Homo sapiens: one gene and its partner. The protein of the gene in region 2 purifies or fractionates together with the protein of the main gene of each other region. This does not show direct contact. Each region holds a gene or a part of one and is shown on either strand. Other genes may lie near its edges.

Region 1 (7,024 bases), on a different chromosome or scaffold from region 2:
ATGACATAGAAGGAAAACAAAGGTGAGAGAGGGTGAGAAGAAACTATTACAGACTAAAATGTGTGGACCTTATCTGAATCCATGTTTGAACAAACCACTGTAAAACAAAACAAAGCAAAAAAACTATAAAAAGACATTCTGGGTCAATCTGATAAATCTGTACATGAAATAGGATATTAGATGACACTTAAGAGCTGCTGTCAACTGTTACGTATAATGATGTTTCAAAAAAAAGGGCATGTATTAGTCACTATTGCAGAAATTTTGGTTGAAAGGATAGGATGAGATTTACATTAAAATACTCCAGCAATTAGAAGACGAAGAGGTGTTGGTGGTGATGGAGATAATGAAACAGAATTGATAAAACCTGTTGAGGCTGGGTGGCTAATTTCTCCCTTTTATATAAATTTGAAAGTCTCAGCCAGGCATGGTGGCTCACGCCTGCAATCCCAACACTTTGGGAGGTCGAGGTGGGTGGATCACCTGAGGTCAGGAGTTCAAGACCAGCCTGGCCAAATGGCGAAACCTCATCTCTACTAAAAAATACAAAATCAGCCGGGCGTGATGGTGGGCACCTGTAATCCCAGCTACTCAGGAGGCTGAGGCAGGGAGGATTGGTTGAACCCGGGAGGTGGAGGTTGCAGTGAGCTGAGATCCTGCCACTGCACTCCAGCCTGGGCGACAGAGTAAGAGTCCATCTCAAAAAAAAAAAGAAAAGTCTCCATAATAAAAAGTTAAAAAAAGAAAAATGGGTGTGGAGGTTAAATTTATAATTCAAACATACTTGTTTGGTAGTCTAAAAATAGGCTGATGAGACAGCAGTCTCTGCCAGAGCAACCACATTAAAAATTGTGTTTAGATTCTCAGGAAGGCCTGCCAAAGCCCATTTAGTTGGTAGCGTTTTTCAAAGGGGTACTTGTTGACATTGTGGGTAGATCAATTCTTTGTGGAATGGGAACTACCTTGGACACTGCAGGACATTCAATTCAGCACCACAGGCTCAAGACACCCAAAGCCAACATCACCCCCTCCAGTCACTGTAACAACAGAAGGAGAAAATCTCCCATTTCCCCAGAATGTCCCTGGGAGCATTAAGGAACCAACTCTGGTTAAGAACTGCTTCATTAGACCACATACTGTCGATTTACGATTAAAAAAAGAGAGACAATAAAGAGGGCCACAAAAATATTAGTAAAGAATTAATTGGCTATTGAAAAGGCAATTTTTAATTTAAAAAAGAGTCTGTCTTATTAATTCATGGTGGCAGTTGGGGATAAATAAGAAAAGCATACATACAGTCAGCATTTTTCAATGACTGCTTCTTTTTGGAAGGTTTGGAGATGACTTTTATCCGCTTGCTGAGGAACACACCAATGTCATCACTGTTGCCATAGAACATCTTTACAGACAACATGAAGTGCTTTCGCTTGTCTGAGTCAGATATATACAATGTTTTGGCTGTGCAATAGTTCTGTGAAAGAAAAGTAAAGTTTTAACAGCAGCAAAACCTTGTTTGTTTATGTAGTACCTAAAACTCAGAATGGCCATGGTTTAAGTAATAAGTAAAACAATTCCAAGGGATAGCTGATAAAACCAACTCTAAAAATTATCAACTATAAAAATTACTGAAATTGATTTCGGAAAAGTACAAAGTCTTCCTTATAAAGTCTGTAGAACACAAACATTGTCATCTATTGTATCCTCTTTAAAAGACCATTTAAAAAAACAGCCTTTTCTTGTTTTACATAGCTCTACAACTGTATCATGGAATTATCACTCAACGTTACAGCAGTAACTTTTAAAATAAATTTTACAGTTAAAAAAAATCAATGACTTTCTCCAAAAAAAAAATAATAATAAAGCTATCAGAATTCAAGAAATTATGTAAAAGATTTTAGCAGTAGTTCTTCTCAAAATAGTGCATAAAATATTTTTCTTTATATAGCTGAACACTAGAGTAATCACTTATAAGATTGAGGAAAACAATGATAGACAAACTGGATGATTATAAAATATCTTAAACCAGAAAGAGATTATATAAGCATTACTTTAAAGAACTATTTTTAAAATGGTTAACTTTGCCCAAAAGGACGATTCATATGTATCACCAGAAGAACTGAATTTAAAGGTACTAGAGAAAATGCTCAAGGCATTATGTCAGTTTACCAGAATTTAAATTCTGATAACTGAAAAGATAAAGAGATATAGCACTTTACAAACAGCAAAGACCCTTCAAAATGCTACTGCTTATATTATATATAACAATTCTAAAATCTTTCCTATTCTCTTGATCCCTGTGAATCAGGGAGGGGTCTAAATTATTGTCCTTTTCCAGATAAGATAAATGATGCTGAAACACAGCATAAGTATCTAAAGTATCGAATTATATTTTTTAAAGGATCAACATTCCACTTTAAAATTAAGCTAAACAAGTTTCTTCAACTGCCTCTCCTGTATCTTCCTTTTAAAAAGCAGAGCAAATGCTACTCAGGAAACAGTTAATGACTTCTAGGTTTTTATCTTTAAAATTTTATTCACAGACAGCCTCGGTAGCAGACAAAACTACTGCAATAGTTTATTGTATTTCTCATAGCAAAGCTATATAAGAAAATTTAGATGCCATCTTGAACATTATACATTTAACTAAGTTTTTAAAAATCAAAAGTTTGGTAAAAGCTTTGAGAGGTTTTGCTCTGTAGAAGGCAAAAATAAGATAAAGCCAATCATAGTAATAAATAAAAACAGGCCAGGGTGGTGGCTCATGCCTGTAATCTCAGCACTTTGGGAGGCCAAGGTGGACAGACTGCTTAAGTCCAGAAGTTTGAGACCAGCCTGAGCAACATGGTGAAACCCCATCTCTACGAAAAACACAAAAATTATCCAGGCATGGTGGTGCATGCCTGTAGTCCCAGCTACTCAGGAGGCTGAGGTGGGACGGTCGCTTGAGCCCAGGAGGCAGAGGTTGTAATGGGCCGTGATCCCACCACCGCACTCCAGCCTGGGCGGCACGGTGGCACCCTGTCTCAAAATGAATAAAGATAAAGAAACAAAAAACAACAGTACTTTGCAGTCACATCACTCCTTGCACCCAAGATCTCTAACGCACTCAGAGATGGCATCTGTGAGCTGCTATACCCATAGGTCGGCCATACTCTTAAAAGTGACAGACAGCATTGAAGGTCAAATTAAGCCTAAACAATGAAATTCTTCTGCAACATAAGACGAGGTCTATGAAAATGGGTATCAATGTACTAAAGCAGACAGTCATGGGAAGCAAAAATGAAATTTATATCTAAATGAAGGTAATTACATTCTAATGGGAAAGCTTAAAAATGTTGAGATGGCTTTTGAGTGTTAAAATTAAAAGGTAAGATCCATATCAGAAAGAGAAAATACTGAAATCCAGCATAAATAAGACATATTGGCAAACAAGAACGGAAAAAAAGAACCAAGAAGGTTGGATCATAAGACCTACACAAAAAGAACTGCATTTTGTTCGGAAAAAACAAACACACATATATCTCCTTGGAAAGAAAGGAAATATATCCCTAATTACAATGAGTAGTTTGAATCCACAAAAATCATAATCAAGATAATTTTATGGGAACTATTAGTTTTAAAAAACTATAAGGCCACTGACCACAAACTACTCAAATTCCATTAAGAAAAGAAGGAAAAAGTCACTGACTCATAGAAAATAAGCAAATAAAACTAAAATTACATTTGCCTTGCTATTGCAAAAGGTTAAATTAGCTAACGGAATTCTAGAAGAGAAAATGGCATATAATCATCTCTCTAGAAATACTCTTTGAAAACAAGATCTTTAGGCAATAAAAGACATTTCCCTGAAAGAAAGAAGAAATACCAAATCTAATGCTGCAAAGTGATACTGCAGAAATGTTTAAATTATAGAAACAAAATGTTACCAAGAGTATATGATGTTTAAAAATAAGAAAAACACAAGAGTGTTAACTAAGTCATCCTTGTTGCGTAGCTTACCTAGCTGTGACTATAAAAAATGTAAATTTTTTTAACAAATTAAAAACATTACACAAAATCTAAGATCCAACATATTACCTACATACAGCCAAATGTCATGACCATAAATTTAAAGGGCTAGATATACTAGAATTTTGTTGCAGTGAATATTTAAAATAAGTATAAACACCAAAAATTGCAAAATGAATATCCCATATTTCTCAATAACTAATTGTACCACTCAATGAACAGACTATTTCCTTACACGAATGGAGTTTAAGTGAGGCAGACAAGAGCAAAGTGCCTCTCACTGAAGCTCAGAATCCGCTGCTCAGGACATCTTTGCCTACCTTGGTCAAAACCATGTTCTTATACCTTTATGCTCTAAGCACATGATTATATTGTTTTTTTTTCTGCCTGGGATGCCTTCTACTAACTCTCACCAGTCTTGCTTTACATAAACTTCCCTAATAGAATTTTTCCTTAAAATTAAATATTAACATATAATTTTGGCTTACAGACATTGTACTAACCTATTACTAGGTATTTTAAATACTAGTTAAATGCTCAAGCTCTCAGGTATTCTATTCCTCTTCTGCCAGTTTCTAGGCCTTGGGGAAAGGGTATACTAGTGGAAGTTGAAGAAAGATATAATGAAAAACAGCAGAAAGATCTCCATGTTGAGGCAGCCCCTAAAGGTACAAAATTAGGATGTGGCACTACTAAGCCACAATGCTGCGAAAGGCAAGCAGTGATACTACTGGTTGGTTTATTTGGTATCACCTCATTTAAAATTACTGGAAGCTGGAACTGGTTAAAATGAGCAATGAAGTAGGATTAAACAGTTATACACACAGGTAGCTAGAATCCCTGGCTTCTCACTACCTATCTGATCCACTCATTCATAGTACTGAATGTCTACATGTGAAGCCTGGAGACATATAACTCTGAGACTTCCTAGGTAACAAGAAAACAGATGAGACAAGACTTAAGATCTATTAGATCAACCCACCACTTAAATATATTCGTTACTTTAGCTCAGGGATCATAATTTAGAAATAGTTTTAGTGGTTTAAGATGAAACAATCTTTATTGTAATAAGTATTATCCCAAATCTAATTTAAAATACATAGTCAACAAATCTTACTTACAAAAACTATAAAGATATAAATGACATACAAACAGCTAAATTTGAAGGAGGTTGACATTAAGACCTGTAGTACTATCTGTAAAATCACTAAAATTCAATTTGAGAGTACAAATCCCCTAGCTCACCTCCACCAACACTACTCCCAACCCATATACCTAGTGCCAACTACAACATAGCAAACACTAAAATATTCAACAAGGATGTATCAAATAATGAAACAGCTGTTTATGCGCTATTTTAGAAGATGTTTAGTCATTGAGATCAGAACTAACCATTTTCCAAAGTACAGTAGCAAGGAAAAATAAAACCATAGCTAAATTCTAAGTGAATAAAAAACTATCTTTCAATACTAAAAGTATAGATTGGCTGGACACGGTGGCACACACCCGTAATCCCAGCACTTTGGGAGGCTGAGGTGGATGGATTGCTTGAGCTCAGGAGTTCAAGACCAGCCTAGGTAACATGGCGAAACCCCATCTCTACAAAAAAATACAAAAAAGTTAGCTGGACATAGTGACACACACCTATGGTCCCGCTACTTGTGAGGTGGAGGTTGCAGTCAGCCAAGATTGCACTATTGCATTTCTGCATGGGTGACAGAGTAAAAACCCTGTCCCGGGGGAAGAAAAAAAAAGATCTAGATTGACTGCTTTCTAAATTCATACAATATAATCAGTAAAACTAGCTGATAGATTGTTTTCTCTAGAAAATTAATTGAAGAACCCCTGCCACGCACTAAAATTTGAGTAAAGCCAACTGTGGCTGTTCTTGTCTACAGTATCACTCTGCTTCACTCTGATGTCAAGTAAACGTTTATGATCGTTATAACCCAGATAAATGCTTTCCACAATGTATATATCATCGTGTCTAGTATAAAACTAAGATTAAAATAGCAGAGTAAAACATTACTGAACAATGTATTTTTGTTGATAAACCTCTGTCAAACAGAAGATGAGCAATCAGCCTCCTAAATTTATTACTGGCTTCCAATAGAAATCTGATTTATAGTCTGCTAAAACTGCTTGCAAGCTGGGGAAGCTTACTGCATGCCACCTTCCAATGTCAGCAGCGTAAGCTTCATGAGTGACTAGACCAAAGCTATGAGAGGCATGTTTTTTGGTCCTAGTTTATATATTCAAGAAATTGTTACCAATAGTTATTAAAGAAAAAAATCTCCACCACAAAAATGAATATGAAAACTACATTCTGGTACCATGGTGCCCCTTTCTGGTGAACTAGCAGTCTTGATTTACCTTTCCTTCCAAGTTTAGCTGCTGCATTTCTTGGTCACTATTTCCTATCCCAATAAATGCACACGGTTGAGACTCTTGTTCAGAACAACCATCGCGTTCCATTTGTTCTTTTTTTTTCTTCCATCCACTGCCCATAAGATATACACAAGGAGGTGGGCAAAAAAACCTGAAGAATAATAGGGGAAAAAAAAAAACAAGAAGCAAAAATCAATTAGATTCAATAAAGCATTTCCTTTCCTTGAACATTATGAATACAAAATCATATTGAAATGCACCTATTCCCCAATGAAAAATTTTGGTGAAGCCTTTTGTAATGCAAATAATCATGCCCACAGGACAGAAATCGGGACTTCCACAATGACTAAATCTGTTCAGGCAAAATATTGGAGTTATGCATACAGTTAGATTAAATACTTTTTAGAGTACAGAACTTCTCTTTGTATGGCTCAGAGTTCTAAATTACCAGAGTTCAGCAAATCCAGTGTACTCTAACATATTACAAAACACGATAAACCACCACAAAAATCTGTAATTACTAATTAAGGCCTATTCAAAATGACACAATCATTAATGAGTGACATTACTATTATGGATACTGCATTTAACTTAATGTGGTAATTAACCTGGAAAATTGTGTTAGAGC
Region 2 (8,018 bases):
AGTATCTTAATTAAAAGTTTTGGCTTTCAATTTAATCATGTACACATACAAGTAATATAACATTACAACATTTGTTTTTTTCTTTTTTCTTTTTTACTATAAACCTCTCATTACAGTCGATTTGTATTTAATAAATCTTGCTTGTGTTTTTACATGTATTTTCTCATGTATTTCTTCCTATTGTTCATCTTCTCCCTCATGCCTGAGTTGCTCAAACTATGAATATTTAAGGAGAATGTGAATATCATGAGTAGGTAGCATTTTTCTATGTGTTTTCCATGAAGGGTGTAATGTACAGTGTAAACAATGAACAACAACCCAAATGGAAAAAAATCAGGTTATTTCAGATCTGTTCTTCACTAAATCCAACCTACCAGTACATTAGTGACTCCACATATAAACACTGGCTTCTAAAGAAAGGGTATAATGCTTTCCTCAGAACATTCAACAGATGGAGCAAAGCCTTAGCCAATGAATAGGACACTTGTGTAATAGACATGCTAATGCACCTGGAGGTGTCGTCAGACATTTGGGAATAAATACCTAAGTAGCTGCAATGAGACGGAGCTCATGAGTCACGGCTGAAAAGTAGTCTTTCATACAATTTCATACAAAAATCAGAAAGTGTTTTTTCCCTTCAAAATAGAACGTGTACAGAATGATTCAATGTAATTAGCAACTTCACTGGTATGCTGCATTTAGAAAAAAAACAAATCTTTTTTGGGTCACTGATGTATAACTAATGCCATTTTAGATTATATCGGGTGTCAGGAGGGTTCGATATAGATTATTAAAAGAAAAATTATGTGCCACTGAACTTCCTGCAGTCCAGATTCAATTCTAGTACCATTTTGTCTGTATATGAAGATTTTTCATAATGTTGCACAGATTACGTGCAACACAGCCCCTCTTTCATATGGGAAAAAAAGCATTTCTGACCCGGCAGCAAAAGAGCATGTGTTTTTAGTTTCTCCAGCTGTGGTGAAGTAGTAGGTAGTCATTTGGTGGTCATCAAAAGCACAAAATGTTCAGTTTCACTCTCACTCAAATCTTCTGTATTTTAAGAAGCCAATCCAGTTGGATTACTTTCCTCTCATCCTACCCTCTCATTTTCCATCCCTGCCCTGAGAAAAGACTGGCGGGCTTGTGCGGCCCACTGAGCAGCAGCTGGTGAAGGGAATCGATGGCTGTGTAATATGGCAAGTGACCTGATCCCCCTCCACACCCCAAACCTGGTTTTCGACTTGAAAGGCCAAAGGCTAAAGAAATTGAATCTACATAATTTTGCAGACAGAAAGTCTTCAATGTCAAGAGTATACATTGTTTTTGTCCTTGAAATGTCCTCTCAGTATATGGATAGTCACTAAAAATGGATTTGGATCCAATTATCCTAGCTTCTATTTTGCCCATACTGAGCCCGTTTCAGGGCAACACTGATTTTCTATGAGGACTTCTCTGTCTCATGGACTGATTCTTCTCTGCTTTCATGAATCTATTAACCTAATGCAATACAAAATGCAATTTCCTGAATTCAAAAATCATCTAAAAGGTATAAATAATTGGTCCCATTTAGCCACAGTTATTAGAGCCTCCAGACTTACATACACAAGAACGACATAAGAATTTGGTGCAATTTAAAACCCAAGGTTGGGTATGCTATAAACTTTCTGTCACTATTTAAACTTTTAAACTTTCTGTCACTATTCTGTCACTTAATTAGTAAACAAAATGAGAGTTATTCTACCAGGTAACATGCATTTAAGGTTCATCAGGACAACTAGCACAGCTGACTAGTTTGCCTACACCCAGAGAATGTGTATCTTGGCTGATAACCACAATCTCAAGCATTTGGTACCATGTTTGTGAAACAGCTCCTGAGGGTTGGAAAAAAAAAAAAACCAGACAACTTTTGAACACTTGGGAACAGGGAAGACATTACATATTAATTCATTAAGGTAGGGCATTCCATTGCAGCATATTTAAAACCCCAAAAAGAGAAATTTCCTAAAGTATTTCCATTGTTTAAATATTGACAGGCAATGAGTTTTAAAAAATGATTTTTCAAAAAAAAAAAAAAACATAGATAATGACATCCCTTAATCTGAAAGCTGGGAGACAGGATGAAGTGCCTTCTTTATATCTAACCGTCTGACTTTACCAGCCCCAAGAAAGGGAACCGTTACTTAGGCAGAGGGCCACAGGGCCACAGCCACCCTCCTGGCTTCAAATAACTGGGCTTTTGGCCCCTCAGCCCCTAGTTCATAGATTTCTTGTCGATGGCCAAAGGGCTTCCTTAATTGTAAGGTTACAAAACCAGAAGAAAATGCTCATGTCCCAAGGAGTCCAAAATGTGCCCCTTTTTCTGCTAAAAACAATTAATAACATACTTAGCATATCAAAAGGAACATAGCTGTTACTTCGGGAAGATTTAAAACATTGTCAGCAAAAGGGAAGATGTGCTAGGTCATTATGGACTTTCTTAGTTACAAATGTTCCTCCTTTCAGCTCCACATTCGATTTACCTTCTCCAAACACCTTGGATGTAAAGCACTGTCAAGATGAAGAATTGTATCTTATAAAAAAGAAAGCCAAAAATTCCTAACCAGAAAAACCTTTCCTCCCACAATCTCTTATAGTTTCATGAGATGTCCTGAAAAAGGTAAAAATATAGTGGTAACATGTTTATATACTTCTTTTTAAAATAAATCACTCAAACTGTTCATTGTACTTGAACAATATTTTGTCTTTGAAATAGCATGAAAGGCAAAGGCAAAACAGAGACAAGCTATAATTTATTTACTATTCAGACAAGACTAAAATCATTTCATCAAAAACCATCTTTTAGCCCAATGACGGATTCACTGCCCTAACAAAACTGTGCTCAATATAAGATAAAGAGCATGAAGTTTTACCTGAGTGTCTATGGGAAGCCATGGCTCAGAGACCAAGTTCAGGAGCAGCACCTAGACCAGTCTTCCCTCAACCCCAGCTGATAAGGCTGTGGCTCATTTGTGAACATACATTTAAGGGGAAGCGGCTAACACAAAAATAACCGAGAGCAGATGTCCCACCCCTCCCCAGAGATCACAACCTTAATCCCACTAGAAAATTCTTAACCATTTTAGGTGATCCAAGGGAGAAGAATAGGACCCAGTAAAAATACCAAACGCTACATATAAATACCTGCGGGGCTACTCAGCATCCAAATTAGCTCCAGAGCCAGAGAGGCCACATAGAAAGTCATCCCTGTACCGGAATAAAATTTGGACTCGGCTCTGGCATAGCTTAACGCTGAGCCAACCTTATTAATCCACTTTATATGCCTCAAGAGCTTGCATTTGGCCCTGTAAATAATACATTTTTGTGCTGTTAATGATAAAAGTAACTCTAAGAGATAGACTTATGTTACCAGTGTAACTCAAGGAGATTAGACAGTATGAATATAGAGATTAAGGGGATTATAGATGTTGTCACTCTATGTCCTCCTTAGTATGTTCCAGAGATCAGCAGATTACTGTACAGGAAAGGAGAGTGATCGTAATCTCCCCACCTCCTTAACGGCAGACAGCACAGAACAAGATGGGGAGACTATGCCTATCCCCATCACACACACAATGAAGACATTTTGTCTCACAAACTCAACCTCTTGTTTTTCAGCATCAGGGACAATAAAAGGAAAAACATGAATGAAAATGAAGACATCAACCTAAAATGTTGTAATAGCTCAACAGGCCATCAGATGTCTGGGGGCTGGCTATTAGGAGCATGTTCTAGGAAAAGAAAGCCCCCAAGTCCCTCCAGGACCTTCTTCCACATTCCTTCTCTGGCCTTACCCTTAGCCCCCTTTCCCTCACTCCCACCTCACTGGCCTCCTCACTGTCCCCTGTGCCCAGAGTCATGGTTGTTCCTTTCCCTACTTCAAGTCTGCTGGTATTGCACTGATTTCTCTCCTTGCTGTCTGATCTCCTGCTTTGCTCCATGAAGGCAGGGATTTAGTACTGGAGCTCACTGCAGTGGCCCCAGAGCCTAGAACACTGCCCAGCTCCCAGGAGGCTCTCAATAACTATTCCTTGAAAGAATGAACTAAATAACTGAAAAATCCATCAAGCCTCCAAAACATAGTCCCACCTGCAATCCTGAAAGTGGTTTTGGCCACTCAACTTCAAGGAAGGCAGCTGACCTTCTCGCTGGTACAGACACCTTTATAGCCACTGTCTTGTTTAAGTGGTTTTGGCCCTATTCACACATCTCCCCTACCAGGTTGAGGGCCAGGGCAGTGCTTTGCTTGTCTTCATGTTCCTATAGCACACAGTAGGTGAGCAGTAAATGCTCCATGAATAAATGAATGAATGAGTTCCCCAATTCTTACGATCTTCAAATGTTTAAGGAAAAGTTATTCTAAAAGACAACTGACATCAGTAACTCCCAGTTAGCTAGAAAATGACACAATAAAAGCCAGGTTGTTACGAGTAAATTTATTACATGTTAGAGGAAAAAAATAAGCCTGGGAAAAGAAGAGAAGCTACACTGTGCTCTGGCTCCACGCCTTTCTAGTCTCTTTCTCATCCAGCCTGATTAAATTATGGTGCGGAGATTAGCCAGTTGTAACAACACCACACCCCTAAAATAAACTGAAACTTTTCACCTAGAGGAAATTCTCTTACTTTATTAGATGATTAACCTTAATGAACCCTGAATTTTTTATTTTAGCAAGTTATATTTTTAGGAAGAGCCCATGTATGTTGAAATGCCTCTCTTGCAGCGCTGTGAACAATAGGCTTGGTGTGCCAAATACTTTCCTTTAGGAAGTCAATTCCTGTTTCAAGCTATGCATCAGGAAGTGTCTTCTTTTAGGCAAGTATGGTAGTTCTTTAGGTTTCTGATCATTTTGAAAAGTGACAACAGAATATGGATAGACAGCTTTATGAAAGTATCAAAAAACAAATCTGTTTTGCCTAAAATACAAGAGAAAATTCAAAGACAAGAGAATCACTTTTTGACCACCATGAATTAGTCAACTATGACCAGCCAGGATGGACTGGGAGCTTGGGCCTGCAACAATAGCATTTATTCCAGTTACTTCCATTTGCATCAACCAGGTAACTGTGCCCTCCTAAAAACTTCATGAAGCATGACCACTACCTGCTCTGACATCTGGCCCTACTGCAGATGTCCTCAAGCCACAGAATTAGACCTTCCACAAAACCAAGACAGAAACAGCCCCTTGCATGATGAGAAACAATTTCTTAGGAAGAATAGTTGGTAACTTTGTCCTGTCTTGGATCAGTGGCTCAGAACCCTTGCTGGCTATTTCACAGGTACCTGGAGTCACGGGTTTCATTGGCATATTAGTCAATCTTGTTATATATTAACAGTATGATGTTTAATAATATCTTTAAGAATCACTGTACTGTTTACAACGCACCTTTATATACTATTGGTGGAGTTGGCTGGTGTTTGGGAGCAACTCTCTTTGGTGTATGATGGTTACATTTCAGGCCTTCTAGTCTCACACTCTAGCAGTATCCGGACGCTTTTTTCAGTGAGTGCTAGGTATCAAACTCCCTGTTTCCCTTCCATGTGACCCTCTGCGAATCATTTACTTCAGGGTTTATCTACACATCCTTATGGTCCTACTATCTGCAGATACATTATGACCTATTATTGGGTTAACCTGTAGATAATGCCGCCCCAGCCATTGCTTTATTGTATATGACAAGCATTTATTGGACAGATGCCCTACTATGTGGTGCAAGGTATTTTACTGGTCACAAAGAATAAAATACAGTCCTTACTTTCAAGTGTAACAAGATAAATATGCAAATGACTACTATGCAAGGCAGAGCCTTACAAGTATTACAAGAAAGGTATAAAGTGTTACTGACATTTATCACAGGGAGAGATCACATCTGGTTTGGAGATGAGAAAAGACTTGATGGATGTCACGGCATTTGACCTGGTCCCTGAAGAATGATTAAGACTTTGGCATGCAGACAAGGGGGAGGGAGTGTTCCAAGAAAATGGTACCATGTCACCTAAGGTATGAGAAAAACACAGGACGTGTTCAAGAAGCAGGATGCAGCTGGGGGGGGTTGGGGTGTGACAGAAGCACAAGATAAGGAAGTAGTAGGACCGAAAGCTAGAGAGGAGGGAAAGCCACACACGGAGGATCTTTCTGCAACTGGTGCAAGGGGAGAATGAGATGGAGTCATGCAAGCAGTGATAAGAAGAGCAGATCTCAGAGAAGAGAGGAGGCAGGGAAGACAGCACAGGGTAATGCAATTGTCCACTGAGATGCAAGGAAAGACTGAAAGAATGAGAGGCAGGGGCAATGGGCATGGAAAGGAAAAACTAGATATAAGGGACACTGTGACAGGGCTACAAGAACTGAAAGAAGGGGAAGGAGCCAAGGATCTCTCTGAGGTTGTGACTCTGGGTGACTGGGAAAATAATGGGGAATATGGGAGGCAGAGCTGGTGTAGGGAAGAATGGCACTTTATTTTAGACTTCACAATGAGTTTCTTCTGAGATGTCAATAATGAACCCCCTTTAATGGGATCCCAGTTATCAAGGAGCGAGAGAGAACAGTAAGATTACAGTAGAATCACGTTTGTGGGATTTCTCACACTGCAATCTAATCCTAGCCTCTCTACCTCAGAAACACCACTGGGAGGATCAAACTTCAAAAGTTCAAAGTGGTGCAACCGAAGAATCAAACACGGCAAATTCAGTGACCCACTTAGCCCACATTTCAGGACTTCCTCATTCACAGCTTGACTTGTGGTCACCCTTCTCCCTTTACTAGATTTTTCTTTTCCTGAAGAAATTTCCAAATGGTTAAAAACTTATTCAGACAATTACTGGCCATTAGTCATGGCCAGGGGCAAGAGGCTGATAACAAACTGTAATGGAGTCTTTGTGGATTTCTCCGTGGTTTCATGTCCAGTTGTTTTTTTTTTTTTTTACATGACTCTTCTTTCCCTCATATCTACTACTAATAAATTAATAGACTGCAAGTTTTTTTCTCAATATAATTTTGTCAGGCTACTTAATCCCTCTGCCAACAATTTCTCCTGAGTGAGTCCAACTGCAAGATTAAGGCAACTAGTCATGCACTATGATATGATGTGATTCAATGTTGAGCTCTCCAGAGTATTTCTTGTCCTATGTACTCTTGCCAGAAAAAAGCTCAGAACAGCTTCAGCCATCTCATGTTCCTGTCAATCTTTAAGGTGGGAAGAGTACTTTTTCCTACTGACACGTCCAATTTTGCAAAGTCACTGCTTAAATGTCACAATTCATGGCATACCCATCAGAGAGTAAAATGAAGGAGCACCCCTGGAACCCCAAGAGGGGGGATTTGGTCATGTAAGGTCCTAATGAAAACAAACCTGAAATTCAGCCTCCCCAAAGGGTCTCTGAATCTCAGAGAAAAGGAAAAGGTATGAAAGAAGACCTGTAACAAATGAGAAGATACATGAAATAAAGGACACTGTAAACAGCAAAGCACCTGGAAAATGCTAATTAACTCCACTGAAGACCTGTTCATTTCACAGTTGACCAGGGCTTAGAATTTTCCTTATAATATTCACAGAGAGATTACGAAGCATGAGCCATGGCCCCTGTCTTTTGATTTTTGGTAATGTCATGATCAGTAACAGTTTTAAATGTCTCTTGTCCCCAAAGTCTGTGCCCTTCCTGTGTTACTACTAGACTTTTACCAAGAGGTAGGAACTATCCTAACCACATCCTACAGATACTTTATGGGCCTATAACCAGAAATCACTATCAGGAAAACACCGAACAAATGACTTTCAGAGCATGCCTAGGATGATATTTTTCAAAAAACAGAAGTGGCAAAAAAGTAAAAGAAGTAAAGAAAACAGAAACAAGAAAATGTTTTAGAAAGAGATATATAACATAAATACAGAATCTAAAATCAAAGGAAAATAAATGTTTCAGGAAACTGAGAAGCTGGTAAGGATAAATCTTTGTCACATTTTAGATGTTAAAATTCT

Evidence for each region.
Region 1: the proteins of FHL1 (region 2) and RBPJ purify together in Homo sapiens (affinity purification with western blotting; 4 studies listed by BioGRID and IntAct, with this or other methods). This does not show direct contact.

Annotation. Positions count from the first base shown.
Region 1 is NC_000004.12:26,414,998-26,422,021, reverse strand, and holds part of RBPJ (recombining binding protein suppressor of hairless), read right to left. Parts: intron 6,548-7,024; coding exon 6,382-6,547; intron 1,472-6,381; coding exon 1,297-1,471; intron 1-1,296. UniProt on the Homo sapiens protein: Transcriptional regulator that plays a central role in Notch signaling, a signaling pathway involved in cell-cell communication that regulates a broad spectrum of cell-fate determinations.
Region 2 is NC_000023.11:136,192,029-136,200,046, reverse strand, and holds the start of FHL1 (four and a half LIM domains protein 1), read right to left. Parts: upstream 3,001-8,018; 5' UTR 2,935-3,000; coding exon 2,913-2,934; intron 1-2,912.